Regions from separate parts of the Homo sapiens genome. Here region 2 is linked to region 1. Evidence: fine-mapped expression QTL. Tissue or cell type: whole blood. Region 1 holds a variant in brackets; the other region holds the start of a gene. All regions are shown on one strand. Distances are from middle to middle.

The links. PIP is the estimated chance that this variant, and not a neighbour inherited with it, causes the effect.
Region 2: SLCO4C1 starts here. The variant in region 1 is fine-mapped to the expression of SLCO4C1 in whole blood (INTERVAL, PIP 0.95).

Annotation. Positions count from the first base shown.
Region 1 is chr5:102,398,505-102,401,195 of GRCh38, reverse strand. It overlaps SLCO6A1 (solute carrier organic anion transporter family member 6A1), which reads left to right. Exons shown (of 14, transcript NM_173488.5): 10 at 1,454-1,641. Among named protein-coding and RNA genes, the nearest start is that of SLCO6A1, 99 kb to the left of the region's middle. The variant CAG/G (reference allele first, on the strand shown) is at 1,250.
Region 2 is chr5:102,294,707-102,297,397 of GRCh38, reverse strand. SLCO4C1 (solute carrier organic anion transporter family member 4C1) reads left to right here and starts at 1,114. Exons shown (of 13, transcript NM_180991.5): 1 at 1,114-1,490. The coding sequence starts at 1,136. RefSeq lists an enhancer at 1,149-1,348.

The sequences.
Region 1 (2,691 bases):
CTTTTTTTTTACTTGAAACATTCTTTTAGATAACCATGTGGTCCACTCACTTACCTTTTTCAGATCTCAGCTCAAATATCACTTCATCATCAAAACATTCTCTGATCATGTTAAGTATTGTCCTATAACCCCCCCAATATTCCCTGTACTTTTCCTTGTTTTATTATTTTCTCCATAGCACTTATCATTAAATACTCAAGTTCCTTTTTTTTAAAATGTCCTGTCTCCCCAAATAGAAAGTTTTCTACATGGAATGGTGGTTTCTATATTATTGTTTACTGTGTTTTCCCAAAACCTAGATTGATGATTGGCATATAGGCACTCAAAAAAATATTTGGTGGAATGAAGGAATTGATATTTGGATATTTGGGTATTTATATTATTTAACATATTTATTAACCTCTCAGCAACTTCACCTATCAAACTGACATAAATTTGTCTGAATTATAATTTTCTGAATAACCCAGATTCAAGTTATGTTTAATTTCTCTTATTTTTTCACTAGTAAAATCTAATTCAATATTTCTGCTAAATTTATTGTATTGTTCTTTTCTTCTTATTTTTTAGTTTAGAATATTTCCAATAAATTAATAAATTGCGAACTGGTCTCTGCATCTTTAAACTCTGTTTAATTCTCCTTAGAAAATGTCACCAATTCATCTGCCTTAAATTATCCACCCTACAACCACAACTCCAAATTCTCATTGGCTTTCCATTCAGGACTGCAGTATGAATCTCATTGACTCTAGACACTTTTGCCTTCGTGCTCTCTTTTCTTCACTAAAAAATTAATAATGATAAAGAAATTATTTTATCTACACCACATTGGTGTGAAAAAATACAATCCAAGCTGGATTCATCATTATATATTCATTTTATATAATTTATTATTATACACTTTTTTCTTTGATTTTAAAATGCTTTAAAATTAAAATATTTTATGTGGTTCTGAATATGTTACAGATTCTAGGCATTGTGTCTGTTGTCCCAAATGGATAGCAGCCCTGTCATTATTACATACAAAATAAAGTCTTTTTAGTATGGTTTCAAAGCCTTTCACAATTGGGTAACTATCCATATTTTAAATCTCAGCTAAAATTCCATTTTTTGTTACATTATTTTTAATTTCCCTCAATTTATATATTTAACAATTTCTTATGAATTTGAATATAAATATTCTGAGGAAAATTTCTTAAATTAACAGAGCTTTTCCTAAGTAATTATAATTACACACACACACACACACACA[CAG/G]ATTTTTTGCCATGTAAAATACCTTGGATTTATCATTAATGTTTCATTTCTAAATAATACATAGCAGGCTTAATATAAAGACATTTTGAAATAAAACTAATGAGTCTCCTTGCAGTTATTGATTTAATTTTTATTTTATGATAAGAACTTTTGTTTATGACTATTTTTCTGAAAGATTGTTTCCTGTCTTCAATACTCACAGATGTACTACAATTGTTCTTGCATTAAAGAAGGATTAATAACTGCAGATGCAGAAGGTGATTTTATTGATGCCAGACCCGGGAAATGTGATGCAAAGTGCTATAAGTTACCTTTGTTCATTGCTTTTATCTTTTCTACACTTATATTTTCTGGTTTTTCTGGTGTACCAATCGTCTTGGCCATGACGCGGTATGTATATATTACTCATTATTATTGTTTATTTAATATATAAGAAAAGTAATTTTGGAAAGATTTTAGAATATTGTAGCAAATAATTTACTCTGTGTTTCATGGTAGCAAATGCAGAGGAAAAGTTGTTAAATTGACACAATTCATGTGTATAATTATTTCTCTTTTAGCTAACTTATTTGCATAGAGTATGTAAATATCACATTGTTTAACTTTAATTTAAAACAATGTATTTACCTAATTTAACACACATAGAAACATTATAAATATAGGAAAAAAATATTAATTTTAACAGATTTGATTATAATGTTAACTCATTATAATTGGTCATAGGAATTTATTAACTATTTACATCCATATTGCTTAATTTGACTATGAGAAAGCATGAGTGTCATCAACAAAGGAGCATAATAACTTTTAGAATTTCAGTATATAATTTTTATTATTATTCTAAACAAAACCAACATTTATTATTTATGCGTTCTTCCTAAATATATGAAATCCATTTAATATTCATTTGTATCATAGTGCAGAATAATTGTTTTGTTATTTTCAATTTTTTTTTTCAAGACGCTAACAAAAAACTTTAAGGCGTGAAAAGCCTGCATAGGCTGACCAGGAAACAAAGAGAGGAAAATGGTAATTTCTATCTGAGTTGATTTGGAAGTACTATAAGATCTATTCCATAAAATGACTTATAAAGATAAATGATTTCTCATGATACAAGCAGGCGGGGGACAAGACCTTAGCAGGAAAAGTGAGCAGTGAAAGTGAAGCCAAAAAATGTATGAAATATCCTGGCAAAAAGTCTGCTATGACAGGATAGCATGATAATGAATGAGGCAAAGAGATTTGAGCTAGGTAAGGGCCCAATTCACATTAACACGACCTTCTTTGCCATGTTAACATGAATGTTGCTATTCTGTGTACACACCTGGGAACCACTGAAAACTGCAAACCTCAAGAGCGAAAGTGATCAGATGGCATTTTAGATAGAATGCTTTGAAAAGACTGTGAAAGATGGAGCTGAGGGGAAAACCTGGAGAAAAC
Region 2 (2,691 bases), 100 kb after region 1:
AATATACAGCAGAGAGACAATTTCTGGTCCTTCAGTTTCGGAGAAGGAAAAGCAAAGCAGTGGTTATGCTGTGATGTTCATCCTGGTGGTGATGGGGGTGGGGTGGGGTGGATTTCTTTTTCTAAGGAGGACTGAGGCAGGAAAATAGGGTCTGGAGGCAGGAAACATAAGGCCTATTCACACTTCAGCTGTAACAGGAAATATCCTCTCCATAGGGCGTAGGCCATAAATGACTTTGTAACTTTACTTCATCTTCTCCCTTTACATAGGGCATACCCAAAGTAACCAATGGAATCCTCTAGGGGGTATTTAAACTCCCCAAAATTCTGTAACCGGGCCTTTGAGCCCCTATGCTCGCCCGTTCCCACACTGTGGAGTGTACTTTCATTTTCAATAAACCCCTTCATTCCTTCCTTGCTTTGTTTGTGCGTTTTCTTCAATTCTTTCTTCAAGATGCCAAGAACCTGGACACCTTCTACCAGTAACAGGATGACAGGCAAGAGTCTTATCAAGATGCTCATGAACCAAAGTATACCTCTGACGTCTTGATTCTTGGAGTCCAAGCCTAGACTGCTTTGGTAAGCAGCAAAGGAAGAAAACGCAAGATAGTTTCCTGAACAATCTCCTGATGCAACTGTTTACAGGTTTCATGTCAGCACCCAAGGGGAGCTTATGGCCAGAGACTCCCACAGTCTCTGTGTGTTCCCAGTGCTTGGGCTCAAGGGAGGCGCGCTGCGGGCTGAAGGCTCAGGTCAGAACCGCAGGGGCTTGGGCGGAGGCGGACTCCGGTCGAAGGCTGTGGGGTGAGAACTCTCGCCCCCTCTACTCGGCCGCCGCCGGGTGGCACGCCCACGCCGCGCCTTCCGGTTGGTCCTTGAGGCGACGGGTGAGGCACAGCTGAGCGCCAAAGCCACAGGCTGGGGCGCTAACGCCCCCGCTCAGCGCTCTGCGCTCCAGACAGCTGCGAGCTGGAGTAGGAAGGTTCAGGCGGTGGCGGAGAGTGCGCTGGAGGCTGGAGGGCCAGGAGGCGGGAAGCTTCCCGCACGGGGGCGCTGTCACCTGCCTGTGGGAGGAGCCAGAGAGGGACCTGGCTCTGCTGCTCTGAAGCACCGGAGTCGGGAGAACCCATCCAGACATGAAGAGCGCCAAAGGTATTGAGAACTTGGCTTTTGTCCCCTCCAGCCCAGACATCCTGCGCCGCTTGTCTGCGTCGCCCTCCCAAATCGAAGTCTCTGCCTTGTCCTCTGACCCCCAAAGAGAGAATTCTCAGCCACAGGAGCTTCAGAAGCCCCAGGAGCCCCAGAAGTCACCAGAGCCATCTCTGCCTTCAGCCCCTCCCAATGTCTCCGAAGAGAAGCTCCGGTCACTGTCGCTGTCCGAGTTTGAGGAGGGGTCTTACGGCTGGAGGAACTTCCATCCTCAATGTCTCCAGCGCTGCAACACACCTGGAGGCTTTCTGCTTCACTACTGCCTCTTGGCCGTCACGCAAGGTAAAGTCCAGCGCCCGCTTGAGGCTCGGGCCAGTGGAGAGCGAGGTGGGCACGGCGAGCCAGCCGGGGGAGAGGGCAGGTGCGCGGGGTCCGTGGGACGGTGGACGCGCCCTGCAAGGTGGCCCCGGGTTTGGAACTTGCTTGCGCTCTCACCAAGGTCAACCTACCGGCCCCCAGCCAGCCTTCCAAAGTTCAGCTTCTCCTTTATCACTACAGTTCAAACTTGCAATACAAGCCTTTTTCTCTTTTGTGTTTTACCTCAGTTTAGCGGATTCAAGACTTACAGGGAAGATTACAAGAACCTTCCTTTGGGAAAGGTATACCCTGGGGAGTTTATTTTACATTATAAAGACAAAAATTTACCTAGGCACTCTTTAAAGGTATTTTACTTTTACATTTGTTTCATTGCCTCAGGGGAAGGAGTAATACGTTTGCAGGTGGGAGTGGGATGCCTTACAAGGAAGAAAGCTATGAAAAATCTATCGTATAAATTAGATACAGACATTCATGTTTTGTGAGTGTATTTAGTTTGAGAGTATGTGGTCACCAGAGGAGCCCAGTGAGTAAATTAGCAAAGGCTCCCGACGTTGTTGAGCCTTAATCTTCATTGTGTTACATTAGTTATCCAGCATCTGTTTTGTTCTAGGATCTCTTTTAGGTTCTCTTGGGAGTTACAGATTCAGTTCAGATTTATACCCTCAGGGGCTTGCAATCTAAGCTCAGTTTGGAGGAGTGATATCCTGGAGGGAGAACAGCTCCCTTGAAAGAAGGCACAGGGAAGGTTAAAGCTGCTTCTGGTGTGTTCAATACAGAGGTTGAAGGAAAATAGGAAGTTAACCTGAGTTGACTTTGAGGAAGGGTGGAGAAGAGGTGGAGAGGAGTCAAGAAGGACATGCCGAAGCTTAGCTGAATTGGAATGTAGATATTTTTTGGTCACTTGAGTCATAGTCCGAGAATATTTTCTGTATAATCAGTCAAGGATTAATTGGAAGAAATACAACCTTAGAAATATAGATTTTAGAGGGTTGGAAACAGCTCATTTTTTAAGTTAATAGAAAACTAAGTCAAAGCCTAAGTATACTTTTTGTTCTTATTCTTCCTCTTCAAGGAACCCAGGGCCCCTTGCTTTGCGCATTAGATGCTAAGTAACCATTTATTGATTGCAAGTCCGCTGCAGCTCTTCTACTGAAGGTAGATTTGT